Homo sapiens: one gene and its partners. The protein of the gene in region 3 purifies or fractionates together with the protein of the main gene of each other region. This does not show direct contact. Each region holds a gene or a part of one and is shown on either strand. Other genes may lie near its edges. The genes, in order: LMBRD2, SLC7A3, SLC2A5 and ATP2B2.

What was found.
Region 1: the proteins of SLC2A5 (region 3) and LMBRD2 purify together in Homo sapiens (affinity purification with mass spectrometry; 3 studies listed by BioGRID and IntAct, with this or other methods). This does not show direct contact.
Region 2: the proteins of SLC2A5 (region 3) and SLC7A3 purify together in Homo sapiens (affinity purification with mass spectrometry; 2 studies listed by BioGRID and IntAct, with this or other methods). This does not show direct contact.
Region 4: the proteins of SLC2A5 (region 3) and ATP2B2 purify together in Homo sapiens (affinity purification with mass spectrometry; 2 studies listed by BioGRID and IntAct, with this or other methods). This does not show direct contact.

The regions. Positions count from the first base shown.
Region 1 is NC_000005.10:36,099,879-36,106,902, forward strand, and holds part of LMBRD2 (G-protein coupled receptor-associated protein LMBRD2), read right to left. Parts: intron 5,320-7,024; coding exon 5,190-5,319; intron 4,229-5,189; coding exon 4,168-4,228; 3' UTR 1-4,167. UniProt on the Homo sapiens protein: Recruited to ligand-activated beta-2 adrenergic receptor/ADRB2, it negatively regulates the adrenergic receptor signaling pathway. May also regulate other G-protein coupled receptors including type-1 angiotensin II receptor/AGTR1.
Region 2 is NC_000023.11:70,928,077-70,935,612, forward strand, and holds the start of SLC7A3 (cationic amino acid transporter 3), read right to left. Parts: upstream 3,021-7,536; 5' UTR 2,901-3,020; exon of another isoform or gene 1,947-2,900; 5' UTR 1,922-1,946; coding exon 1,552-1,921; intron 927-1,551; coding exon 768-926; intron 558-767; coding exon 380-557; intron 182-379; coding exon 69-181; intron 1-68. UniProt on the Homo sapiens protein: Uniporter that mediates the uptake of cationic L-amino acids such as L-arginine, L-lysine and L-ornithine. The transport is sodium ions- and pH-independent, moderately trans-stimulated and is mediated by passive diffusion.
Region 3 is NC_000001.11:9,038,630-9,045,653, forward strand, and holds part of SLC2A5 (solute carrier family 2, facilitated glucose transporter member 5), read right to left. Parts: intron 3,309-7,024; coding exon 3,156-3,308; coding exon of another isoform or gene 2,992-3,155; exon of another isoform or gene 1,561-2,991; coding exon 1,435-1,560; intron 1,359-1,434; coding exon 1,171-1,358; intron 1,034-1,170; coding exon 923-1,033; intron 301-922; coding exon 199-300; intron 1-198. UniProt on the Homo sapiens protein: Functions as a fructose transporter that has only low activity with other monosaccharides. Can mediate the uptake of 2-deoxyglucose, but with low efficiency. Essential for fructose uptake in the small intestine.
Region 4 is NC_000003.12:10,334,585-10,341,608, forward strand, and holds part of ATP2B2 (plasma membrane calcium-transporting ATPase 2), read right to left. Parts: intron 6,121-7,024; coding exon 5,909-6,120; intron 5,766-5,908; coding exon 5,658-5,765; intron 3,775-5,657; coding exon 3,592-3,774; intron 1,717-3,591; coding exon of another isoform or gene 1,545-1,716; intron 1-1,544. UniProt on the Homo sapiens protein: ATP-driven Ca(2+) ion pump involved in the maintenance of basal intracellular Ca(2+) levels in specialized cells of cerebellar circuit and vestibular and cochlear systems.

The DNA of each region.
Region 1 (7,024 bases), on a different chromosome or scaffold from region 3:
GGCTTGGTACAGAAGGAATCAGAGGCGAGGACATGTTCCTGCTGCAGTGGGAAGTAAGACAGAGCAGGACTACGGCCTGCCCTACTGGAGGAAATTGCTCCTAGGGCCTTGTCTCCAGGAGTTGGGAAAGGGGAAAGAAAACATTGCCCAGTCTTCCAAGTCTCTGGGCAAAAAGTCACTGAGTTGGAAAGAAGTACCTCATACAGATGGGAATTCATATTTTAGAAGGCCTTCTGTAACCTTCTTATATTGTTTCAACGCTCCTAAGAAAAGTTTTGATGATGTATGTTATTAATTCCTTTTCATAAAAAGATGTCTCAAGAATCTAAATAAATCTTAAATTTTGGGGGGGAAATCTATTTTTATGTAAAAATATTACACTGAAAACAATTTATTTACTGATGTGTCCTCTTTAGTGACCTAAAAGATACACTGAGCCAGCATACTTTACATTTGTATTCAGATGTTGCTTAGTTGTCTAGCAAAATCTGTTTGACTACTTTAGGTACAATATTGCTATTTCAAGTAGTGGGATTTGTAGTCAGAACTAGTTCCTTCTGAGCGTACCACTCATCAAAAACAACTCTGTACACAAAACAGAAGGAAAATCTTTCAGCACATTAAAAGTCATGCTATAAACATAGGCCTCAGAAAGGAAGAAAGGTATAAAGGAATGAGAGAGGACATAAGAAAAGAAAGACAAAACCCTAAATCCACTTACTTCTTAACATTTAGAATTCAATACAATCCATTACATTTGATGATTCAAGTACGCTAAGATTTTTCAGGGACATATTTTGTCGCTTAGTGCAAATATACTTGTAATTTTTAGGCATAATCCACTCAAATCACAAGTAAGAAACTCACCTTACTAAACAGGTGAATTATAATATGGAGAGTTTATTTTTTCTCTAATATGGTAATCAGCACACCAGCAAGAACATTCCCTAAACCTATTAATAAGAATGAGGTTTGTAACTGAATGTAAATTAAATTGCTCCATTAATATGCTAAAATATACTTTTAAAAAACCACACACATTGACTTTCCTATGCTAATTTAATTTGGGCATACATGCAGCTTAAATTTCAGAACTGATCATCTAATCAAATAGTAGTCCAAAAAAATCAACTGGCAGAATGTTTTTTTGAATGTCTGGATTGTCAAATTTTCTGATCTATTCTTTATAAAGGGAAAACCCTTGAATCTTTTGATTTAGTTCTTACCATTTCTGTGAAATGAGGGCCTCTTATGCAATGAGATTATTCAAAAGCCCTTGTATTCATTTGGTAAGAGAGCAAATTTTAATAATTAAACTTATTCTTTCTTTTGTTTTTTACAAAAATGCTCTATTGATAACAAGTTATTTATGTTGTAAAAGAAGTTAATTAGTAATTTAGAGGTGATTCATTAAATTAATAGATTATTATTATTTTCTACAATAGTTATTCTGAATTACTGGCTTACTGAATATTCTTACCTAACAACTATTTAAAGAATAATTTGGAAAATTTTAAACTAATACTTATTATCAAGTAATAAAGTCATCAAAAATTACCAGAAATAATTCTTTAAGAAATGTACTTTGCATGTAAAGTATATGTATTTAGTAGTCCTATTTTGCAGTAGATGTCATTATATTTCAATAAGCTTCTCAAAAGAGAAAACTTCTACCCATTACAGTTTTTTACACAGGGTGGCTTGACAAATATTAACTTGGTTCCCCAGCAATAAACTGAGTCTTCCAGGGTCAAGTCATTGCCTTCTGAACTCAAATTTATCCAACAAAATAACATTTTTATATGATTGTATATAACATTCTGTAAGACAAATTCTGCTTAAAGTTGAATATTCTGAATCACTGAAACAACCAAATATTTTAAATATAACTTGAAAGTCATAAAGGAATCTATACCGGTTGTGAAGTGTATGCACGTATACACTTCAATTATTATAACCATAAAAAATTTAATACTAAAGGAAAGTGGTAACATTACCTTACACGTTCCTACCAATTTATCTTAGGGCATTATAAAAGTTAGTTATAAAAGTAATTGGCTAATTTCTTTTCCTTTTCTGCTTCTGTTTCAACAACAGCATCTTAATTTCATGACAAAACCTGATGAGAAACATTATACTTAAGAAATTATTCCAAAGTAAACCCAAAGACTAAATAAAACAACACTACTTTCACAGGACTTTTGATGAATTAGTCCAAAAGCGTTTTTGCTTTAAGTACTTGTAAACTTTTCTGTAATAATAAGAAACTGGACCCATTTCTGGGATGATCATTTCCCCATCCAATACCTTCAAGTATCACTAGGAAAAATAGCACAGTTATAAACTCCAGTACATAAACACCAATTCAACTTCCTCACAATGGCTTTGTAAGGTAGATCAGCAGGTAAATAGCAAGTATCATCTTCATTCTGCAAATGAAAGTGCAGAATGAAGCACTTGAGGCACTGAAGAGCTACATGATTTGCCAAAGGTATTCAATTAGTCAATCATTAAATTACAAAGAGGATCAAATTATCTCTGCTCCTGGCTTATTGCTTTCTGGCCACACTTCACATGAAAAGACTGTATGTGTGTGTTCTTAAGTGTAGTCTATATGACCTTCAATTCAGAGTAAGTCTATCCACTGATAATTATTTTAAAAGGGATCTAATTGCAAAGATCATAAAAACTCAAAGATCAAAATTTTCAGATAATGAGGATGATGCTCTATTCCTTTCAATATCTGCATAGAGCTGTGTTTTAAAAAAAAACTTACATGATAATATTTATTAAAAATAAAAATAAAAATTTTAAATTTATGTCTTGGGGAAAGATTAACTTCAAGTTAGGGGAACCATATAATTCATCTTCAAACTGGGTGGGATACTTGAGGGTGAAAGTAATCACTAGTAATAAACAGGATACTAGGTGTTACACTGAGACTGTATTAGGCAAGCTGAAGTATGGTCACCAAATGTAGCATGGATTCAGTAAGAGTTGCAAATATTCTAGGGACATAAGAAAACTCTCTGCAAGCATGCTGCAATCAAACATGTTCACTTTTCAATAAAACACTAGTGCTTTAAAATATAATACATAAATTTATCTTAAACACAAAGGTTAAAAACAGTCTATTTAGTAAGAATGTTTAACCAACAAGTTATTACACATTTCCATTCTAATATAGTTTTGTTTTCTATAAACCACGATTTAAGTATCAGTAATAACAGTAAATGGATTCACTTTTTACCTTTGAATAACCAGTTTTTTTCTCAAAAAGTATAAGCAGGTACCTTTAAATACTGAAGGATTTTGTTGGACTCTTTGACTACTTAAAAAAAAACTATTTTTCATTAATGCCTAGGATTTATCCTTGAATATCATAATCAACATTTAAATCAATATGTTAAATGATAAATGTGAACATAGCTTTCTGAAATGAAAATCTTTTATAAAGCAATACCAGAAGCATAAAAAAATCCAGTTACTACAAAGACTGAAGGAATACTATATCACCTGATTATAGTACACATGCTAAATACACAGACACGCATCACTTGAAGTATAATCTTAATCTTATACATGCAAAAATCCCCCACGAGTTTGCAAACAGATTTGAAAAAGCACTTTTTACATTCAGTTATGTCTAGTAAGTAAGCCTTGTTTTAAGACACGAGTTTTATGAATACAGTTATTATTTGAGGTCTCCATTCACTTACATTTCTTTGGGAAATACAGGTTGAATATACTTTTTAGAAGTAACAAAAATGTAAGTCACAATAACAAAACTGTATATAATATTATTTAGTATGACTTATGGCTTCCTTGAATCTTTAAAATAACTCTCTTGAAAAAAAATTAATCTGAAACAAACTGAACTGCATGTTCTTAACATATGTTGATCTTTCTTAAAGTCCTTCCACTGTAACTGTATTTCTAAGGCAGATGCTTAGGAAATGATATGTAATAAATCTTGTTGAAAAAGGTGATACTCTATTCAATGCACATTAAACTATTATTCCTAAGATATAATTAATTCTCAGTGCCTTTTTTGTTATCTTGACACTTTTCACTGTGTATAGAGGAAATTCTAGGGTACACAGATGTTCATCAAGACTGAACTGATGTGTTGACCTTGGTTAGTGGTCCCACAAACTTTTTCAGACTTTAAACATCATTAAATATGTCACTGCGAGACATCGAGAGATATCGTCCACCAGGCTGATACCTAAAAAGGGAACATAAAGAAATGATCTGAGGCATCAAAAATAATAAAGGAAGAGAGGAAAACAAGAATACATTAAAAGGGAGTGGCCATATAATTTGTAAGTACTGTAAAATCTAGTCAGTAGCTGAAAGCAGAAACTTACCCTCCAAGTATATTATCCAAAAGGACTTAATTATAAATCAACCAGCAACGGTTTTAGACCCTAGAATATATGCATGACAGAGTGAGAGATGTAAAAAGAAGGGGGCAGGGGATGTAAGACACATCTGGGAGATTAATCAATTCAATAACCACTCTCAATTGTTGCAAATAAATATAACCTAGGTTTTTACTGCATATAGGCAATACTATAGTAAACATTTTCGTGCACATGATATTTTGCTTTTATTTAATTATGTGCTTATAGCATAATGGCTAAAAGTACAGACTCTGTAGCCAGAATACTGGACTTTGAATGCCTGACTTGCCATTTACAAGTTGTGTGACTCTGGGCACTTTACTGAGCCTCTCTGGATTTAAATCCAGCTGAATTTGCAACCATACAATTACAATATTTTTGCTAAAGGACTTAGAATAGTGTCTGGCATCTAGACACTGCTATGCAGCAGTTACTAAATATAATAAATTTCACAAATGGGACAATCAGAAATAGGCATATAAATATTGTTGTGATCCTTTGCTATATATTTCAATTATTCTTTCTTATTTATAATACCACTAGTATTGTATGAAGATAACAATTTTAGTTACCATTACTGGATGATATAAAAGCATTAGAAAGTCTAAAAAGGTATCAAAAGTTACTTAATATATTTTTTATTGTTAGTGAAAATGAACATTTTCCTTTACTTATCACTTGTTTACTTTCACCTTTACTTACTTATTTTCAATCTTGTCAAGTCAATGTGTTATTAAAAGTGTAGAGGAATGCTAGAGCTAAAATGTCACAGCCAGAACTTACCTTCCTGATTCAGATTCAAGAGGATCATCAGTGAATGTTTCTGCATTAAAATCCAAAGGTTCTGCATCTTGGAGAAGTTCTATCCGGTCCCTTTCAGTCCTGTTATTAGCCCTGGTATATTTGAATGCAGCTGCAAAGGAAGGGGGAAAAATGTCTACTTCCCTACTGTCTTTTAACTTATGGGTCACAGTCTATGGAGGTACAGAAAGAAAAATCAAAATTCCAAGGAATCTGAAGACAAAGAACATAAGAAAAGATAACTACATGGTTCCTTAAAATCAGATTAAAATTATAAGCAGTATAATAGAATATAGCAAGGAAAAGTTCTCTAGGCTTGTAGTTAGCTAAGAAGCTCTCTAAGCTCAGAAGCAGACACAGTGCAAACATTTCATTAGTGTAACTCAGAATTAACATTTAACTATGGTATCACAATGGTGAAACTGTTTATTAACAAAAGTAGTTTGAGTTGGTTTTACAGTAAACCTCATTTCTTGGCTAGGACTTTAATGTGTAATCAGCTCAAACTCTTAAAAAAAGGTGTGTCTTTTTACCATAAGGCAAGAGTATGGGTAGCACTAGCCAACATCGGCACTAGCCGATATTTAATTAGAAATTTTCTAGTAGCTATATTAAAAAGTAAAAAGAAACAAGTGAAATTAATTTTAATATATTTAAACACAATATATCCAAAATATTACCATTTCAACATGTTGCAAGTGCTCAATAGCCACGTGTGGCTAATGATTATCATACCAGACAGCAGATAAAGAAAACTAACTCTCCCTTCTCTATGTGGATAGGGATTTCTATATAAACAAACCAAATTTTCACAATGTTGTTCAGAGGAGTCCAAGTAGATTTACAACAGCTTTATGCTATAGTTCTTTCTGAAAACTTAATGCAAGCCAATTCTATCATATTTACATTTTTGTAAGCTTGGACTCTGTCCCAAATGCAAATCTCTTCATCTTTTCTCTCACTCATTCAGCAAATCGCAATTGCCCAATACATGCTAGATTCTCTCTAATTCATCATCCTATGACTTTGTGACTCCTCTTCTTTTAAGCACTCTCCCGTCTTGCCAGGTCTTTCTATTCTGTAAACTTCTTCCACTCTATGGTAAGCAAGCATCCAAATCCCTTTACAGAATCCTATTTCCTAGTTTTAACTAAGCCTTTAGCCCTTTCCTATTTATTATACCCTAAAGTCCTTCAAATAAATCCTTTTCTCTTCATCTCCAGGACAACTGCCTTATTTTAGACCATAATCATTTCTTGACTGTATTACCAAACAGTCTCTGAAATGGTTTCTAGTCTCACTTCCCCAAGAATTATGCTTTATACTGCCATCAAATTCATCTTTCTAAACCAAAAATCTTATCATGCTTCTTCCCAGATTGAAATCTTACCTTTAGGTCAAAATCCCAACTTTTTTTTCTTTCGTTTTTTTTTTTTTTTTTTTTGATGGAGTCTTGCTCTGTTGCCCAGGCTGGAGTGCAGTGACATGATCTCGGCTCACTACAACCTCCTCCTCCTGAGTTCAAGTAATTCTCCCATTTCAGCCTCCTGAGTAGCTGGGATTACAGGTGCATACCACCATGCCCAGCTACTTTTTGTATTTTTAGTAGAGATGGCGTTTCACCATGTTGGCCAGGCTGGTCTCGAACTCCTAACCTTAGGTGATCCACCCACCTCAGCTTCACAGGCATAAGCCACCGCGCCTGGCCCCAAATCCAAACATTGGAGAATGACAATATCTGTTCCCCAACTACTCTGTGGCCTCCTCTCTTATTAGCCTCCCCATGCTTAGGCTTTAGTTAGAGAAAAACATGCATT
Region 2 (7,536 bases), on a different chromosome or scaffold from region 3:
CCCAGTCTGCATACAGCCTGGGCACACACTGTGCCCAAGCCCCAAACAGAATGGAATGACTGTGTTACCAGTGGTAGCAATACAGTCGAAACCAACAAATGCATAGAAACAGGTCGCTGCTCCACGGAGAATTCCCTCGAAGCCGAAAGGCACAAATCCTCCAGAGCCCAGAGGACCCAAGCTAGAGTGGAAGAAGGGTTGGAGAAGGTAAGGGTGTGTTCAGCCAACTCTGTATCTTTTCTCTAATGCCAAACCAGTTAGCTAGGTCTTCAAAGCCCAGCCTCCCATTTTTTCCCATCCCCATCCAGAATCCTTCAGCAGATCCCCTTCTTCCCCTTCATTTTCCCAGCTCTGCAGCTCCTAAGAGTGACCATCTAACCTATAGGTGTCATTGAGTTCAGCCATGGCCAATTCGTAGTCCTCTTCTGTGAGCTTCCAGTTGTGCACGTCCCCCTTAACGAAGCCAGAGATCATGACGAACCCAAGAACCAAAAGGTTCACGCCTGTGAACACTTTGGTAACCAGGGCCGACTCACTAGCCCCGAGAGCCAACAATCCTGTGGGAGAAATGCATTCAGGACTCCCAGAAAGTCTTCAGTCCAAGCTTTGTTTCCCTGCCTCTAGGTTCCTTCCCAGCTTTTCTTCTTCCCCACCATTATCACCTCCCTTAAGCCTTTCTCAGGCCCATCCCCCATCCTTATCCCTGGCCCCAAGGACTAGCCCCTCCTGGCCCAACCCCCACCATTATACCCTGCTCTTTGCCTCACCAGTGAGCAGCAACACGAGGCCCAAAGCAAAGAAATCTGGATATTCTGCAAGGACATGGGGCACGTGCAGTGCAATGGACCCCTGCAGAGTCTTAGAGATGTGGTTCCCAATCAGGTTGTCAAAAGCAGAGCTCCAGGCCCGGGCCACACTGGCTGTACCTGGTGTAGCAGAGAGAGAAACATGTGGCCAAGTTCCCTTCTTCCCAGACCCCAGGCTCACACAAGTCCCTGCCTTTTTCACCTATTCTTACTTTTGTTTTGTTTTGAGACCAAGTCTCACTCTGTCACCCAGGATGGAGTGCAGTGGCACAATCTCCTCTCCCTGCAACCTCTGCCTCCTAGGTTCAAGAGATTCTCCTGCCTCAACCTCCTGAGTAGTTGGGACTACAGGTGTAAGCCACCCTGCGCGGCTAACTTTTGTATTTTTAGTAGAGACAGGGTTTCACCAGGTTGGCCAGGCTGGTCTTGAACTCCTGACCTCAGGTGATCTGTCTGCCTCGGCTTCCCAAAGTGTTGGGATTATAGGCGTGAGCCACTGCACCTGGCCTATTATTACTTTTTAAGAACCAAAACCATTCACTTAATTAAGGAAACCAGGACGGAGATGGATAGAATGAGCAATTTCTCCACACCTTCAACACCCCCCCCCAGACCCCCAGCAAACCCGCACATTTAGGGAGATTGAGGTCCTGTGAATAATATAAAGAATACTTCCACCCAGATTTCCTGACCAAAAACCCCTTTGCTGGCTGTGCAGTTCCCTCCCTCCCCCACCATATCTCACCAATGACATAGGAGAGGATGAGGTTCCAGCCAGTGGTGAAGGCCCAGAGTTCACCCACAGTGACATAGCTGTAGAGATATGCCGAACCAGAACGGGGAACCCGGGCACCAAACTCCGCATAGCACAGCCCAGCCAACACAGAAGACAGGGCAGCCACCAAAAAGCAGATCACAATGGATGGCCCTGCTTTATCTTTGGCCACCTCGCCAGCTAGGACATACACGCCTGCACCCAATGTGCTGCCCACACCCAGGGCCACTAAATCCAGGGTGCTTAGGCATCTGGCAAGGCGAGTCTCAGCCATGCCTGACTCCAGTGTACGTCTGCGTACCAGCTTTTGACCAAATCTGCGAAATGCTTGCCACGGCATCCTAGCAGGAATTGAAGAAGATGATCTGGTGAAAAACAAGACAAAAACCCCTCGACAGGGCTCATTATCCCTAAACTCTGAAAGCGAATTACAAGACCCCCTCCACCAAGCAAAGGAGCTATTGGGAAATGAGGACGGGGATATGGAAGGGACAAAGGCAAGTCACTTTACCTCTAACCTCAGTTTCTTCATAAACAAGTAGGAATTACAATACCTTACAAGGTTTTTGGAAGGGCTAATTTCAGAAATGGCACGTGAAAGCCCCCTGAAGTAGAGTGGCTGGCGCCTAGTAAGTGCTCAATCAATATTAGGTCTCTTTCTCTTGCCAGAAACTGATAGGGTTTATCCTAATCTCAACCCAGGAATCTTGAAACCTAATGTGTCAGTTCCTTGGCCTGTGGCTATTTGGGAATTAAACAGAGCTCCACCCAGGGGCTTCCCCCGGGGCTTCAAACAGACACAGCCCCCAGACCCCCCAGAGGGAGAGGGGACCAACCTCGCTGCAGATTAAAAGTGAGCACCGACTCAATTCCATCCCTCCTCACCAAGCCCACACTGCTCAACTAGCGCAGCTGTCGCCCAGGGGAGTAAGCAAATGTTCCCCTACTTCCTCCCAAGCCCTGCTAGGCTGACCTGCAAGCATCAACAGCGAGGCGGGGCTTCGACATCTAAAGATTTGGAGATGCGCCCCCAGAGGGGCCCCAGGGCAGCCCGAGATTGCTCGCACTCTCCTCTCAGCAGAGAGGAAGGGTTCCACCCGATGCCCCCCGACTCAGGTCCCAGATTTTCCTGCCCCCATCTAGAAATGGTTTGGAGCTGGGGTGGAGACGGGAGCCCTAACTCCCGGGGCGGGGGTCTCGCCAGCAACAGGTCACGGCCCCGTTGATGCAACTGCATGCCATGGTTGCCAGAGAATCCTAGGTACGCCCGGACCCTCGCCGTCCCCCCTCCGACACACGTGTGGGTCCCCAACGCTTACCAGAGAGCTGTTGCAAACCTAGGGAGCACAGAGTCTTGGACTGGGCTCGGTGAGGCGGAGTTAAGCCGAGTTGGGTTGGAGCTGCCGAGTTCGGCCGCTCAGGCTTCAAAGCTGCGGCTTGGGGTCGTTGCGCGCCAAGCGCCCCTTATATACACCAGGAGGCGGAGCCGGTAACGTCATGGGATCCCACCCCCAATCCTCCTCGCTACACACAATACACACACACACACACACACACACACACACACACACACACAACACACACACTTCTTGGCTTTGCAAAAGGATTGCGTGGGGCCTGAGACTGCGTCCCATCCTCACTAGCAAGCCTGGCGTGCCGGGGAGCGAGAAAAGGGGGAGGGCAGTCTTTTCCCATTTGTCTCGCTGGTCGTCAGAACAGGACAATAAGAGGCTTCCTGGCCAAAGAACCCATGAGATTTTCCACCTCTGTGCCCTGTTAGGACCAGTGATTCTGGGCAGGAATGGGGAAGGTAGGTGGGGTGTGATGGGGGGGAGTTGGGTGCGTGTGTGTGTGTGTGTGTGTGTGTGTGTGTGTGTGTGTGTCAGGAGTGAAGCGGAACACAGCAGGGGAGTCTCCACCTCACTCTCAGTCTTTCTTCCTTAGCTTTCTTGTCTACACATCTGACCCTGACCCTTCAGCTCTCACGCTCAGCTGTGGGTGTTTCTAATGCAGGCAGCAGGAGAATGGAAGATGATTTCAAGCCACCTGTATACAGATAATTAATCCAGTCTAAATTGATTTATAGGCCCCAATCTCTCTATAATGTGTCTCCAGCTGCCTATAAATATTAAACTATTAAATGTGAAATTCTGACAATACCAACATCTTGGAGGAGGAAGCTTGTTTAGTTCCATTTTATTGATGTGTAAGCTGAGGCTCAGAGGCATGACTTGTTTGACACCACACCATAATTATTGTTGACCACCTTTGATAAAACCTGGCCTGTTGGACTTCAATGCCTGCCTCCCGTAGGCACCATATCTTATTCAAATGAACAAGAAGAGGGATGTGGCCACAAGGAAAGACAAACAGGGAGAGGCATCAGCAGCAGGGTAGGTCCGTTTAGGCTAGGAGATACTAGGAAACAGAAAAGGACCCGAAGAATCTACGAATGATCACATTGGGTCAGATCCATAATCCATCTGACCCAATCAATTCTTACTCATAAGAAAGCACCAAAGGTTGTGAAAGTGTGGTCCCTGCTCCACCAAGACATCTTGGGGACTAAGGATGGACTCAAATATCCTTGCTTCTTTTAATGATCCATGATGAATATATTACCCATGAATCTAAAATCTAAATCCGTTCTGAAAGAATTGGTATTTTCAACCAGCTGCAGCTCCATTTGGCATTCATTAAGTATTTATTGAGCATTTATTGAGCACTATGTGTAGTAGCTGGTACAGCAATGAAGAGACTATGAAGGAAACATAAAATAAAATCCTTGCCCTCCTAGTCCTAATCTAACTAGGGAAAGAAAACACACACTATACAACTGAAACCTTATTACATAGACGTTAGGAGTGCTGTGTTTGGAATTGCACCTAGGTTAAACTCACAGCTCAGCCACTGTGGATTACCTAACATCCCTGAGCCTCAGTTTCTGGACATAATATACATATTTCACAAGGTTGTTGTGATGCTTAGATGAGATTATGAAGTCAAGTCTTCCTGCCTGGCACATGGAAAGTACTCAAGAAAAACTTGATACATATTTGGAACGATATATTAGTGTATATGATCTGGTTGCTTAGATTAGGTGATTGATTGGATTATGAGATTGATTATTTATCACAGAGATAAAATCCAAATGCCATGAAATCCAGTCTTTTAAAGAGTACAATTCAATAGGATTTAGTATACAGTCACAGAGTTGTGTATCCATCACTACAATCAGTTTTAGAACATTTCATCATTCCAAAAAGAAACCCTGTACCCATTCCCAGACACTCCCCATTTTCTCCCAATCCCCTCACCGTATCCCTAGGCAACCACAAATCAATTTTTTTGCCTCTGTAAATTTGCCTAGATGTTGGTCAAAGGATGTAGAGTTTCAGTTATGCAAGATGACTAAGTTCTGGGGATCTAACGTGCAGCATGGTCATTATAGTTATAACACTGTATTATGCTTGATACAGTTAATAGTATTGTATATTCATGTATATACTTGAAATTTGCTGAGAATAGAGCATAAATGTTCTTATCACATCAAAAAATAGTAATTATGTGAGGTGAGGGATATGTTAATTAGCCTCATTATGATAATCATTTCACTATATTATACATATATAAAAACATCATGTTGTACACTTTTAAAAATATACAATTTTTATTTACAACTATACTTCAATAAAGCCAAAAATAAAATGAATAAATAAAATGTAATTCAGTTGAGGGAAAAAAAGAAAGAAAACCACCATTTTGCACTCACCAAAGTAATAACTGATTCAGGCAAGGATAATCAATAGATGATCCTGGGTGTTGGGAAGCAAAATATTCACATGACCTCAAAATACCACCCAACAGATTATAGTTTAATTATAAAGGGAAAGGTCCTGTATTAGGGTTTTTTGTTTTGTGTTTTTTGTTTGTTTTGTTTTGTTTTTGAGACAGAGTCTCACTCTATCGCCCAGGCTGGTGCAGTGGTGCGATCTTGGCTCACTGCAATCTCTGCCTCCCAGGTTCAAGCGATCCGCCTGCCTCAGCCTCCCGAGCAGCTGGGACTACAGGCATGCGCCACCATGCCCAGCTAATTTTTGTACTTTTAGTAGAGACAGAGTTTCACCATGTTGGCCAGGCTGGCTTCGAACTCCTGACCTTAAGTGATCTGCCCTCCTCAGCCTCCCAAAGTGCTGAGATTACAGGTGTGAGCCACTGCACTGGCCAGTTGGTAACTTTAATTACCTCTGCAAAAGCCCATTTTCCATACAGTGAAACATATTCACTGCTCTAACAAGCACCAAGGGAAAAAGTCACGGGGGCCAATATTCTTCCTACAACAGTAACTTTATAATGGAGAAATCTGGTGGAAAACACCTTAGCTAAGTGATCAAGTTTAGCACCACAAATAATGGGGCAAACTGACATTATATGCCAGCAGATGTGATGCAATGAGAAGTACATATCATCCATGACATATTTTTGCCAAAAACGTTTAACCCTGAAACTAGTTGTGAGGATGTAACCAGAAAAATCCAGATTGTAAGACATTCTATATGACAAAAGACAACTAGCTAGAGTTCTGCAAATGTCTTGAAAGATTTTTTGCCAGGCACGGTGGCTCACACTTGTAATCCCAGCACTTTGGGAGGCTAAGGCGTGTGGATCACCTGAGGTCAGGAGTTCGAGACCAGCCTGACCAACATGGAGAAACCCCATCTCTACTAAAAATACAAAAATTAGCCGGGTGTGATGACGCTTGCCTGTAATCCCAGCTACTCGGGAGGCTGAGGCAGGAGAATCGCTTGAACCTGGGAGGCGGAGGTTGCAGGTGAGCCGAGATCATGCCATTGCACTCCAGCCTGGGCAACAACAGCAAAACTCTGTCTCAAAAAAACCAGAAAAGAAAAAGAAAGATTTTTTTTTTTTAGGTAGGGGGACTGTTCTAAAGGAACTAAAGGAGACTGAGAGTCATGACACTATGAAGTGCATGGTCCCCAGCTGGAACTTGGATTGGAATTCTAAAAAAACATCTATAAAGGAGATGATTGGGACTATAGCAGAAATTTGAATGTGGCCTGTATATTAGCTAATGATACTGTATCAATATTAATTTCTTGTGCATGATAACAATATTGAGGTTATGTAGGAAAGAATGTCCTTGTTCTTAGGAGATATGTGCTAAATATTTAGGGATGAAGTGTAATAAACTTGAAAATGGCTCGGCAAAAATAATGTGTGTGTGCATGTGTGTGGAGAGAGACAGAGCAAATGTGACAAATGTTGAAAAGTGGTGAATCTAGGTGAACAATATGGGTATTGCTTATACTACTCAAATTATCCATATATTTGATTTTCTTTTAATTAAAAGTTGAGGCCAGGCACGGTGGCTTATGCCTGTAATTCCAGCACTTTGGAAGGCCAAGGTGGGTGGATCTCTTGAGCTCAGGAGTTTGAGACCAGCCTGGGCAACATGGCGAAACCCTGTCCCTACTAAAAATACAAAAATTAGCCAGGCATGGTGGTGCGTGCCTGCAGTCCCAGCTACTCGGTAGGCTGAAATGAGAGAATCACTTGAGCCTGGGAGGTCAAGGCTGCAGTAAACTGAGATCACTCCACTGCACTCCATCAACAAAGCAAGACCCTGTCTCAAAAAAGAAAAAGAAATTAAAAGTTTAGAAATGACCACACTTTCCTAGATGATATCCCATTTTTTCTACATAACTCTTAATATATTTTGAATTTCCTTTGATATACAAAATGTGAAATATATATACATATGTAACTTGAATTTTTGCCAAAATACAAATCAGTCAGTCTAACACAATTCATTACTCATTCTTCGACTTTGATGATATGTACTTTATCATGTATTAAATTCTTAAATATACTAGCATATATTTCTAGATTTTCTATTTTTCCATTTGTGACTGAATTTATGCTAGCATGTTAAAT
Region 3 (7,024 bases):
GATGAGCCACTGGGAAATCAGCTGAACGTGGGCTATGAGCTGGCAGGACACACGGTCCCCAGATGTCTGGCCAGTTGTATTTGCTAAAACAGCTCATTGTGACCCCTTTTATTTTAAGGCAGGTGGAGGCGCAGGATGGGAGGGGCACTGGTCTTCCTGGTGCAGCTCCGGGCTCCTGGGACCCTGGCCTGTCCTCACCTGCAGTGCCAGAGCTGCAGTGAGCACGCAGCAGGCTATGAGGCAGATGGAGAAGCCCAGCAGCAGCAGCAGCCTCCGACCCAGGAGCTCCACCACGAACACCTACAGGAGGGTGGCAGGGCTCAGGCGGGAGAGGCCCAGCTTCACCTCCCTCCAGCCCCCTCCAATGGGGCAGCTGTGAGGAGAGCTGGGCGGACCGGGTGCCCACCCATGTGCACGCACACTCACATTCACATGTGCAAGACATGCCCTTGGGCAGCCAGCGGGAAGTCGGCTGTGGCTGTGATGCGGGACCCCAGCTGCCCACCCTTGAGACTCAGCTCTAGGGCCTCCTAATCCCACAACCCTGAGCCTCAGGATTCCTGCCCTCGGGAGGCCAGATGTCTGCATGCACCGGAGACGCTGCCCCCACGGAGCCTGCTCCCATCCCGAGGTGGCCGAGCCTCACTCCGGGTAGCCCGGGCTCGGAGCCACCCAGCAGTGGGCGCTGCCTGGTCCAGGCACGCCTACATCCCGGTCAGGTGGTGGCCCCGGGCCCGGTGCGGCTCGGCAGCCCCAAGTGTGAGGGGCTGGTGCGGGGCCACCTCCCACACAGAGTTTCTGTAGTAGCGGCTGGTCCTCCACGTTTTGGGGCCACGGGCTGCCCTTTTGGCGGCGCCGAGGCTGGGGCGTGGGGCCCGAGGGGCCTTGGGTGGAGGCTGTGGGCAGCTCCCAGGACACTCACGGCGCAGAAGGTCATGACCACGTTCACGGCCCCGGTGCCGGCCGTCACGTACTGCACGTGCTCCTCCGGCACGCCGGCGCTCAGGTAGATCTGGTCCGCGTAGTAGTAGATCTGCAAGGCAAGCGCGGGGCTGGGCGGCTGCCCGGAGGAGGCGGCCTCGGCGCCAGGACCCACGCCCGGCGCCCCAGGACCTGCGCCCCGCGCCCCCCGAGCCCTCCCCAGCTCCCGAGCCGCAGCCCGGCCCATACAGCGTTGACGCCCGACAGCTGCTGGCCGCCCATGAGGACGATGATGGACAGCAGCTGCCAGCGCAGCGAGCGCATCCGGAACAGCTTCAGCACGGAGATGAAGCCCGCGGCCTTCTCTGCCTCATCCTCCTGCCGGATCTCGGCCACCTCCCTGTCCACAGAGTCCCAGCCGCGCAGCGTCTGTAGGGCTGGGGAGAAGCGGCACCGTCGGACCAGGGCTGGGGAGCAGAACCTGGAGGCCGCCCCCGCCAGAGCCCTCGTTACCTTTCTTGGCGGCCGCTTCGTCTTTCTTCTGAATCAGCAGGTACCTGGGGCTCTCGGGGAAGAAGGGCAGCAGAAGGAGCTGCAGCGCCGCGGGGACCCCGGTCAGCCCCAGCAGGATCGGCCAGCCTGGGAGGAAGGCAGCGAGCTGGCACCAGCGGCCTCCCCACCACCCCGAAGGCGCCCTCTGCAGAGCCGGCCCCAGCCCCGTCATCCTGAGTGGGGTGCAGGCTCCAGGAGGGCACAGCTTTCCCAGCCCTAAGAACAGCAACTCCCGACGGTGGACACTCGGGAAACACCTGCAGCAGGGATCAGCAGCGACGCACCCCTGCGCCCATCAGACAGACCACACCGACGAGGCCGGTAATACCATGTGCTGGTGAGAACGTCCCCGTGTCCTTCAGAGGACAGTCTTGCAGGGGCTGGAGGAGCTGGGCATACCCGGCCTGACCCAACTGCCCACTCCCAGCTCTATGCCCAGAGAAGCCAGGCCACCAGGATGCCTGAACTGGAATGGTCACGGCAGCTCTGATTACAGAAAGGACACCAGAAACAGTGGGAATATCGTTAACATTCCACATAGAGGGGACACATGGGCTGGCTGCATTGGTACTGCAAAGGCAAAACTAGAGGCAAAGCAAAAAAATGAAGCACAGAGCTTCACAAATGCCTAGAGGGCCGTGTGTGGTTCTGAGTCCTGCTATGGAGCTCCCTGAGACAGGAACCTGGCTTATTCACTTCTGGTCCCAGCTCCTAATGAGAACGCGGCGCCTTGGCGTAAGTGTCCCCAACACATGCAGGAGTGAAGGAGAGGCAGGAGCATGTGGTACTTAAACAGGGACCTAGGTCTGTGCCGCTGGGTCTGCATCCTCATGAGACCTTGGACCAGTCTTCCAATCTCTCTGTACCTGTGATGCACCTGCAAAATGGGTATGATACTGGTACAGGCTTAATAGGGCTGTTCTGAGGAATACATGAGTTACTAAAAAAGACTTGGCACTTGGCTCACGGTAAGCACTTTCTACAGAGAGTGTCTAAGCAGCACAGAGCTTGATGATCCACTTGACTGACTTGCAGACGGTGTGTAGAACCCTGGCGGGAACTGGCTTATGTTTTGGCTGACGGGATGACTGATGATAGTTTAAAGGGAAAGTCGTGCAAAAACAACCCCGGTTACAGGTGTCTGTGCACCTGCCGCATGCCAGGCCCCAGGCTGTCTTGGGGAAGGTGGAGGCAGGGTCTGGGATGTCCTCACCACCTCCCCCATGGGGCCAGGCCACCCTCACTCCTGGTACTTCTCTTTCTGGTCTGCAAAATGGGATAATCACTGAGTCCCAGGCAGCAGCGTTGCTGGGAGGGTCCTATGAACTGATGCTGGGTCCGCCCCAAGCACAGAGCCTGGCACACTGGTGGCTGTCATTGCTATGCCACGGGCCTCCATATGGACAGCTGCTGAGCAGGCAGGGAAGCCCATCACTCAAAGCCACCTCATCCATCTCCTAAGAGGGACTAGATAGTAAACGCTGGCCAGTCCCTTATCGCGCCTTTGTCCATGGCCTGCTATGTTGGCTCGGGACAGGATGGGCCCCCCAAGGACATCCAGCCTGTTAGAAGAGACCAGTCTGCAGAAAGTCCTGTCCTGTGGTGGTGGCTTTGGAACACAAGGAGGGGGCCAAGGGTAGTGGTGAAGGGGTGGGGGTGCTCCCGAGATGTCCTGAACTCACCATCTACGTTTGCAAGGAGATTCCGAAGACCAAAGATCTGGGCCACAAGGATGCCAACAGTGATGAAGAGCTGGGGCACCACCCCGAGAGCCCCCCGCAGGTTTTTAGGGGCCAGCTCCCCTAAGTACATGGGGACCACGTTGGAAGATACACCTGGGAGGAGGTGAAATAGAAACACCATCAGAAAAAATTAGTCTGGCAGGGACAAGCTGTCTTCAAGTATACTATTCTTAGCAATAACATTATTTGGGCCAGAACTCTCTCAAAACTGCAAAGGAGAAAGCAAACACCTCTTTTAATTCTTAGCCCTTTATACTTTAAGGAAAGAGAAACAGATCAAAGGAGCTCATGCACAGGGGCCCTTGCTTTGGCCCATATCATCTGGGGACACTGGCCAGCTGGATCTACGGCCTTCCCGCTCCCTGGCCTGAGTCTAGACCCACTCACGTTTCTGCTTTTTGAGGAGGGTCTGTTTCATAAAAGGCAAGGCAGCTGGGTGTGATGGCTCGTGCCTGTAATTTCAGCACTTGGGGAGGCTAAGTGGGGAGGATAGATTACTTGGGGTCAGGAGTTTGAGACCAGCCTGGGCAACATAGTGGAACCGTTTCCACTAAAAATATGTATATGTGTGTGTGTGTGTGCGCGCGCATGATATATATGGCCTGTGTGTATTTACATATGGTGTGTATGTCTGTGTGTGTATGGCCTCTGTGTGTGTGTGTGTATGTGTATATGGACATGGCCTGGTGTGTGTGTGTGTGTGTATATATATATGGCATGTGTGTGTACATATATATATATATGGCCTCTGTGTGTGTGTGTGTGTGTATGTGTATATATATGTGTGTGTGTGGGTGTGTGTGTGGCCTGGGTGTGTGTGTGTGTGTGTATAGGGCATGTGTATGTGTATGTATATATATGGCATGTGTGTATGTGTGTGTATGTGTGTATGGCCCAGGACCCCTAGCCCCCAGCTTTACCTTATAGGAACAGTAAATAAACCAATGCAGAGATAGTTTCATACACCTTTAAGAACAAGTTATATGTCTCTATAAGCATTTAAAATGTCAACACATATTACGGAATATCTGCATTTCTGGGATTTCTGTAATGCCTGGACTACTTCTGAATCCCCAGTATTTAAACTTGTAAATATTCCCATCATACTTGAATCTGGTGGAGGGAAAACTTACTCTATTTTATAGAATGACGTGTTGCCTGATGTCAATTAAAAAAACATAGGCAGAATTTAATTTTGCAGCTTCCAAAGTATTTTCACATATATTGCCCTATTTAATTCTCCTAAAAGCACATCCAGAGGCTGGGGATGGAGAGGAAGTTTCACTAGTCCAAGTATCAGGTACCAAATCCTGAGTCAAATGGAGGCTCAGGGACGTGGGTCTCTGAAGGGAGGCTCTCAGGAACAGAGTTTGGAGTGAGCAGAGGTTGGAGCTGCTGTTGATGGCGGGGTATTTGATAGAACTGAGATAGGAGGGTACCTGAGGCCATGTTTTCCTGTTTGGCAATTCTACCCACAGATGTCTCTGCTCAGTATTTGAAAAGAGACATCACAGTTCATTAATATCGATTCTTCCTCATTTGCAGAGCAAAGAGGGGCAGTCTTTAAAGCAGCTCTTAGCATGTCTAGGTGGGAAGAGGGAGCAACACCTCACAGGCCCAGGGCAAAGGGCTGCAGAGGAAAGGAAGGCCTCCTGGGAGCTGAAGTGGGAGGCTGTGTCCTCACCACTTAACAAGAGCCACTTAGCAGCAAGAGCATCTTGGTGAAGGATATTAATAAAGGGTCAAACCTCAGGAGGTTTGTGAAGAGATGGGGTTACCTGTACGTTGGTGGAAAGCAATCTCTATTTTTGTCTTTAAAATGACTCCACTAGGACCTCCCAGCCAGCCAGTTCTGATACGAGAATCAGAGCAAAGTGGCTTTTTTTTTTTTTCGAGATGCGAGTTTCGCTCTTGTCGCCCAGGCTGGAGTGCAGTGGTGCGATCTCAGCTCACTGCAACCTCTGCCTCCCAGGTTCAAGTGATTCTCCTGCCTCAGCCTCCTGAGTAGCTGGGATTACAGGCGCCCGCCACCACGCCTGGCTAATTTTTGTATTTTTAGTAGAGACGGGGTTTCACCATGTTGGCAAGGCTGGTCCTGAACTCCCGACCTCAGGTGATCCACCCGCCTCGGCCTCCCAAAGTGCTGGGATTACAGGCATGAGCCACCGTGCCTGGCCTGGCTTTTGAAGTTTAAATTCCTCCTGCTGGACACTGTAGCTCACCCCTGTAATCCCAGCATTTTGGGAGGCTGAGGCAGGTGGATCACTTGAGGCCAGGAGTTCGAGACCAGCCTAGCCAACATGGTGAAACCCCATCTCTATGAAAAATACAAAAAAATTAGCTGGGCACGGTGGCACATGCCTACAGTGCTAGCTACTCAGGAGGCTGAGGCACAAGAATTGCTTGAACTTAGCAGGTGGAGCTTGCAGTGAGCCGAGACCGTGCCACTGCACTCCAGCCTGGGCAACTAAGCAAGAGTCCATCTCAAACAAACAAACAAACAAACAAAAAGTTTAAATTCCTCTGAGCCAATGAATACCTTCAGTCTTCCTGCCAAGAAGTTGATTAGTAACAAATCAGTGAACTGTGAGCATGTTCCAGTAAAAGTCATACTCATCTTGGCACCCCCCTTGTCAAGGTAGTTGTTTACTTCATTTTAGAGTGAGCAATGTGGTTCTTGTTCATATGGGTGGTTTTATTTTTGTGTTGGTTTGTTTGTTTTGTTTTTGAGACAGAGTTTCACTCTGTTGCCCAGGCTGGAGTACAGTGGCACGATCTCGGCTCACTGCAACCTCCCCATCCTGGGTTCAAGCGATTCTCATGCCTCAGCCTCCCTAGTAGCTGGGATTACAGACCTACTCCACCATGCCCAGCTAATTTTTGTATTTTTAGTAGAGACCGAGTTTCACCATGTTGGCCAGGCTGGTCTCGCACTCCTGACCTCAAGTGATCCAACTGCCTCAGCTTCCTAAAGTGCTGGTATTACAGGCATGAGCCACTGCACCCGGCCATATGCGTGGTTTTAAAATGAGTGTCTAAGCAGCACACAGCTTGATGATCCACTTTGCTGACTTGCTGGAGGTATGTGAAAAACTGTTGGCAAATGGATTATGCCCCTAATGGCCAGTGTTCTCAAGCCGTGATCTGAGGACCCAGGGATCCCGAGACCTTTTAAGGGTGTCTGTGAGATCAAAACTATTTTCATAATAATCCAGAGATGATATCTGCTCTTCATTCTCTCTCTCTCATGAGCATATGGGAGTTTTCCAGAGACTTCTTGCCAGGCCACATCACAACTGACCTGACCCAGAAGTACATCTGAGAATTCAGCTGTCTTCTATTAAGCCAGACATTAAAGAGATTTGCAAAAATGTCAAACAAGGCCACTCTTCATGTAATAGGCTTATTTTAAAAAATGAATTAATATGTCTCTCGGTTGCCATTTCTAATACAGTAAATATTGATCAATGTAACCCACATGAGCAAAAGCTCTTTGGAGCCCTCAATAATTTTAAGTGTGTAAAGGGGTCTGAGACCAAAAACTGAGAACTGCTGACTTTAGAGTAAAGGCTGGGATTTTTAACTGATTTGTTATCTATTGGAGCCTAATATTTCTCTGCTGGAAACAATTCTGTATTGTTAATGGTCAATAGAAAAGTGATTGGACCTGCTTACTGGTGGCAACTTTTAGGAATGTATTTTTCAAAATGTTGAGCCCACTGCAGAGAAAACCCACAGGTCAGGGCAAGATGGCAGAGACCGGCCGGGCATGGTGGCTCACGCCTGTAATCCCAGCATTTCGGGAGGCT
Region 4 (7,024 bases), on a different chromosome or scaffold from region 3:
ATCTGCTGAAATGCATCTCCATTTCATCTTGGCTCCCCGGTCCTCCCCAGCACTGCGTTTCTGTGCTGACGAATGAGCACTGAGAGGCTCCTTCCCTGCTTTCTGCTTCTGTCCTGCCGCTATGGGTCGTGGACATTTGCCATCAACAGGCTCCCTGTGGCCCGCGCCTCCTACTGGAGGCACTGAGGGAGGCGCTCCCACCAGCACACCGGGTTACCTGCTTGGCTGCAGGGGTTGTGTTGTGGGTGTTCTGGTTTTGGATGGGGGTAGAGGCCCTTTATAAAGTTTCAAGGGGTGAGCTGGAGTCTACTTCTCATCAAAGAAGCTGGAGGCTAAGACTGACACTATGCCAATTGGAGAAGACCAGAACCAGGGGCTCCCCTGCAGATCAGAAGCGCCTGACTGGAAACATAGCAGGGCGATGGGAGGAAAGACAGACTTGTTCCCTATGGGGCCCGAAGCCATGGGTCCGGGAAAGAGCTAGACAAAGCCAGCAATGAGTGATCTAGATCAGAAGTGGTGGCATGAGGAGATGAGCTTGGCAGGAGGGAGATGAAGGAGGGGCCACAGTCCCAGGCTATCTCTCAGATAAAGGAGGGCAGGATGCTGAAGGGCATATCAGGTCCCTCTGGGCCTGCTGGCACCCAGGCAAGATGTGAGGCTCGACCCACCATTTTCTACCAGGGGTCAAGCTGAATGGGCCAGGGACCTTGTCCTTTCCAGGAAGGGCTTAGAACTTCAGCAAGTTCCAAGCTCAGCCACAGGGAAAGGTGTCTGCAGGGCAGCTGATGCAGTCAAAAGTGCAAGGGGAGGAGTGACAGGAAGCGGGCAGAGACTCTGAACTGCTGGGGTGCAGCGTCTAGGCTGTGAGCTCCTAGGTGGCCTGGGGATCCCTGGCTGACTATGACCTCTGACCTGCAGTGACCTCTTGGCTCAACTGTCCCCCTTGACCATGACCCTCATTACTGTGGGTGCCCCCTGACCAACTGGGAAAGTCTGGTTGACGTGACCCTCTCCTGGGTGGATCCCAATGTGACTGACTGGGACCCTAAGGGGCTTGCTCCCCTTGACCCACAGTGACCCTTCTGCTGACTTTGACTGCAAGACTGGGACCTCTTGTCCAACTCCAACCCTTGCCTTGGTGGTCCAGGCTTTTCCTGACCACATATGACCCTAGGCCAGTGGGACACTCTGTGTCCCCTCCATGTCTGTCCCCCTCTGGCTGCCGGGACCCTGTGGTGGGTTGGGACCATTTGGTCACTGATGTCCTCTTGACCAAGGGTGACCCCTTGACTGAACCAGACTTTTTGGCCACTTGGGACCCTAATGACCCTCTGACTGACCCTGGTCCACTGAGTGACTGCCACCGCATGACTGGCTACGCTCTCCTGACCAACGGGACCCTCTTCGGTGGCTGGGACCCTTCATCCCCCTGGGCCTGATTGTGACCGGCTGCCCCCCATGTCCTCTGGTGCCCCAGCCCCTGCCCGCCTGGGAGCTGGCGTGGGCAGTGCCAGCCGGAGGCAGTAAGGAGTCACACTCACGCCCGGCTGCAGCAGGAGGAAGGCTGGTCGGAGAGGAAAGAGCATTGGACAACGACACGCGACTAGGGCTAGAGAGATTGGCTACATCCTGGCTCTGGCTGGTGACCGAGGACTGTCTCCGCAGGGCCCCCTGAAAGGAGGCCCCGCTCTTGAAAGTATTGACTACTTCAATCTGCAACGGAGGAGAGAACGAGACAAGTTGCGAGAAGAACGAGCACAACGGCTACATGACTGACAGGGCAACGTCACAAGAACAGCCGCAGCCACGGCAACAACGACAATGTCACTTAAATCAAAACAAAAATACCAGACACACTCCAAGGCTCTGAAAAACGTCTGCTCAGCTCTGGGCCCACCTGCAGGCCCCAGGGTCCCCGGGAGGACACAGGGGGTCCGGCCTTTGTCCTGTGCTAGTGGCTCAGGGGCCAGTGGGCTGGCCAGTGGGGGAGGCAGTGATTAAACATGGTATCTGGAGGGAAGAGAGCAGTGTTCAGCCTCCCTCAGGTACAGGCGTGGAGGTAGAGGGTGTGGTGGGGGTCCTGAGGTGGACAGAGCTTGGCCTAAATTCCAGCTCTGTCACTTACTAGCTAGCTGACCTTGGGCAAGCCACCTCTCTGAGTCGAGTTTCTTGTTCTTAAGAAGGGTCAATGCCACCTGCCTGGCAGGGTTATCTGTAAGTGGCAAAGCACCTGACCCGTGTTAGCATTCCGCAAGAGGCAGGCAAGACAGGCGCCCCTGCCCACTCAAGAAATCGCAGTCCTTGCTTCCTCCCGTAATCTGGAGACCCCTGCGTGGCTTTGCCGCCAGGGCAGTGACAGCACCAGGGACATATTCACTGAGTTGTCCTGGACCTCCCAGGAGGTGGGGGCAGGCTGGGAGGGGTGGCTGCGGGGCCCTAACCAGGGAGGGTGAGCCCAGGCCCGTGTCAGGCACCTCCGGGTCTGAAACCGGCTTCCAGTCCCCACCCCAGCTGTGCCAGCTCAGTAGAAGGGGCCATCTCCTGGACCTTGGTAACCTCTAAAACTGGGGGAGTCACATCTACCTCCCAGGGCTGTGAAGGTCACATGAGGTGAGGTTTGGGACAGGGTACAGAGGGGTGGGAGGTGACCCAGGTGAGCTCTCTGCTACATCGGATGGAAATGAGGTGCTGGGCCACAGCTGGCAGGATGGTGGCCAGGTGGCTGCTTCTACACTGCACTTCGCCCAAGCATGCTGGGGCATGGAGGAGCTCCCACTCCAGCTCCCCAGATGGTCTGGGCAAGAGACCCACAGAGTCCCTTCTGACCCTCCCCTCGCAGGGCTGTGACAGCACTTGTGAGCTACAACACCTGCTCCAGGCATAAGGGGACCATGTGAGAGCATGTGGTATGTGTGTGGGGGGGTCGGGGGAGGCGCGCAGGTGTGTCGTGTGCCACGTGGCAGCCATGCTCTCTCTGCTCTGGGGAAGAAACCTGCTTCTGGCTGGCTACGCCCTGCACCTGTGCTCCCCTGGTGTGCTTGGTGTGTGCATGTGTGTCTGTGTGTGCTTGAGGATGACTGACCTTTGCTCCCCAGAGCCTCTCCACCCCCTAGGGGAAGCTGGGGAGAGCAACTGAAGCCCCCGTGGAGGCGGCGGACCCCCTGACCACCACGCCCTGGGGGACCCTGGGCGACCTGGCCTGCAGCTTCTGTCCAGCCTCACACGGCCCCTGTGGGTGGGTGCCCCCAGCCCTGAGCGACAGTCCCCTCACTCACCTCTGCCCTCAGAGCCACCCTTCCCCACCCTCTCAGGGAAATCCCCCTGGAGACCATGGTGGGTGTGACCCCTACCACTTCCCCGTGCTGCCCTGAGAGGGCACAATGGGACCTCTCTGAGGAGGCCGTGCTGTTCCTTAGCAGCCACAGGAGTGGGTGTGCAAGTGGCTGGTGAGAGCTGGCCGGGACCCCTCTGTAGCCACCCTCCCTCAGCACCAGAGCTGGGCCCTGGGGGGCAGCACAAGCACACTCACCTCCATCCCCTGGCCCGCCCCGGCCAGGCCTGGGCCCAGCCCCCAAGAGCCTCCTGTACCTGTGTCTGGATCCGATTCAGGCCTCGGAACCACAGGATCTGGCCCCGCCGCAGCTCCCGCTCCGCGTGGTCGATCTCCTCCACGTCCTCGTTGAGCTCCTCCTCCGGGATCTCCTCCTTCTGTGTGAGCCTGCCTGCCTCCTTGAGGAACTTGAGTCTGCTGGTCGGGATGGTGGCGATGACCTGCAAGGGACCCTGTCTGTCAGGACGGTGGGGCTGTCCTTCCCAGTGGCCTTCTCTCCCTGACACCCGCTCCTCTACCTCCCTCCTCCTACCCGCTCACCCAGGCATGTGATCAATCTACTCCTTCACCCACCTCACCTGTTCCTCAGCCCAGTCTTTGACAATGTCTTTTTTTTTTTTTTTTTTTTTTTTGAGATGGAGTTTCACTCTTGTTGCCCAGGCTGGAGTGCAATTTGCTTTTTAATTCATTCATTCAGAGTCAGGGTACATAGTGGACAATCTTGGCCTCTAGGAGTTGGACAGATGTGGCTTTGAATACCCCAGACAACCCTGGTCCTGTGGCCTCGGGCAAGTCATTTAACCTCACCGAGCTTTGGTTTTCCTAGCTGTAAAGTGGGGGCCGCTCTGGGCATGGTGAGAACTGGGCACGGTGGAGGGTCTAACTCGTCCTGCATGAGCCTGGCCCGTGGCTGGCCCTCGGTTCTCCTGGGGTTACTTATTCCTCTGTCCCTTATTCCTCCTGAGGTCACTGGACCCTGAAGGCAGCCAATCCTGGACTGGGAAGGCAGAATGGGAAAGAGCTATGCCTTCATTCCTAATCTTCCCCAAAAGGCTTGTCCATGGGGCTGAGGACCCAGACGCAGGCCCTACAGGAAAGCTGCGGTGGCAGATATCAGAGGCCCCTTCCATTTCCTGTAGGAGCAGTCAGGCGCTGGCATGAATGCAGCCTCAGGGGGCTCCCTGGGAGTGTAAAGTCAGCACTGCCCGCTGGCATTAACCTTTGTCCTCTGAATCCTTCCCTCAGTTACTGGGCCCAGCCCCCAAGAGCCTCCTGTAGGGGGTGGGCCCCAGTGGGATAAAGATGGCCTGGCCCCCAGGGTGCCCAGGGGTTTATCACTCTCCAAAGCAGCCCCAAAGGTTACAGGAAGTCCTTTTGGATGAAACTAAACTTTCTTATTTATCTTTTAGTTAATTTTTGCCCCCGTAGCTTCTCACTCTAGCCTGCAGACAGCTTGAAGGCAAGAAAAATGCCTCCCACCCATGGGGTCCCACTGCCTGGATGTGTGAGCACCTTGGGAATCAGGCCCCTTAGGCCCTGAGTTGGTTCTGGGCCCTCCTCCCAAGCCCTGTGTCCTGGGTCAGGAGCCTTTGGGCTGCATGCTCTCAGAGCTGTGACAGGGTCTGGAACTTGGGCAAACGTAGAAAAACGAATTGGTGGGAGAATATTCTGGGACAAAGCTGGAAGGGCCCCTAAAGAGCATCCAGCCCAAGGAGCCCCAGAGCTGGGGCAGGCACAGCACTGAGGCCACAGATGGCCACAGGCACAGCACTGAGTAACACCGCAATGTGGCAGAGTGTGTCCTGCTTGCGTTCCCTCTGAGTGCTCTAAAGGATCCTGATTGACGCCAGCCGGCCACCAGCGCCCGCAGACCACTGATTCATCTCCCTTCCTAACAAGCTGCTCCAGCCTTGAATCCCTGGCAGGCCATGGCTTCTAGCTGGAGTTTAATAATGTCATTCTCATTACATTAATGTTTTTGTTAGCTTCCATTTATGACAAGTGATACTGATTTTTCAGTTGTCTTAGTAACAGGACGTTGCCTTTAAAAACAAATTTAAGTTAAAAAAGCTGACGTGATTGAGAGAAAATATTACATAAACAACAGGAGCAGTGGTAGATAGATATAAGGCAAAAATCAGAGCAGTAGTACCCAGACGACCAGTATAGGACCTGGGACAAACCCCCTTGCTCAGATGTCCAGAGATAGGGAGGAGCTTGCCTGGGGTCTGGCAGCCCATTCCTGGGGGTCCTGGATTCTCCATCCAGTGCTGTCTCCCTTGCCCTGCTAACAGGCACCTCCTGCGACCTACCAGGAACTTACCTGGCCCCAAACGAGCTCTCCTAACCCAATGAATATGCACCACATCCACTGGTCCAGCTGCAGTGGAGAGCAGCTGAATGGCTTCCCTCCAAACTGCACGATCACTATCTGGAGGTCACAGGGGAGCAGAGAAAGAGAGAGAGAGAGGCCATCAGGGACCAGCACAGAGGGCTGGGCTCTCAGGGTCCTGCCCAGGGGCTCCAGCCGCTTGCTGCCCACCCCGGGCCTGGTTAGGGTGGGGGCCTCACTACCTGGATGGCAAAGGTGCCCAGCACGATGGTGCAGAAGATGGGGTTCCGGAAGATGCCGTCAAAGACATTGCGCTCGCCGTGGATCTTGCGGGCGTTGATCTCGTTGAAGAGCTGCATCATGACGAAGGTGTTGAAGATGATGGTGTAATGTTCTGAGGGTGGCGAATGCAGGGGCGCGTTCCTCCCGCTGTCGATCTGGAACATCTTCTCGCCTGCCAAGTGAGAGAGTGGGGCTGGGCTGAAGGCAGTGGTGGGGGAATCAGAGGGGAGATGCCTGGCCTTTCGTGGGGGCCTCTTCTGAGCAGTGACGTGAATCCCCAAGACATCAAGGCATGCTTGGACAGTGGGGGGCCAGGGCTGTGCTGTCAGCTGGTCAGAGACTAGGACTGAAGGGTCAGCAAAGCCCTTTCTCCTCTGGGGAAGAAAGGCCTTGGGCAACTGTCTTCCACTTTTTCTGTGGAAACCCGATAAAGGTGGACGGCCGGCTGTGTTAAAGGTGGGCGACATGGCTTCTAAAAAGTGACCTCAGACTGGAAAACTCATTCTGGACTGCGAGGACAGGATACCTGCGGGAGGTTTTGCGCTGCCCCGAGAGTGCTGCTTCTTGTTCCTGAGCATGTCCCTTGCTGAGACCTCTACAAGCTCATGGGGCTGTTACTAGAGATGCCAATTCCTATATGGAGCCCAGGACTTCTGGGCTAGGCTGGCTCTGGACCCTCCCATGTGGCTTCATTCTAACACCTGAGCTGTCACATGGCAGGGCACTGCTGTGTAGACGCTGCTGATAGGGTGTCTGATGCAGTCCTGTATCCTTTTTGTTTTGTTTTGTTTTGTTTTTGAGATGGAGTCTCGTTGTTGCCCAGGCTGGAGGACAGTGGCGTGATCTCAGCTCACTGCAACACCCGCCTCCTGGGTTCAAGTGATTCTCCTGCTTTAGCCTCTCAAGTAGCTGGGATTACAGGTGCGCACCATCACGCCCGGCTAATTTTTGTATTTTTAGTAGAGATGGGGTTTCTCCATGTTGGCCATGCTGGTCTCGAATTCCTGACCTCAAGTGATCCACCCGCCTCGGCCTCCCAAAGTGCTGGGATTACAGGCATGAGCCACTGCACCTGG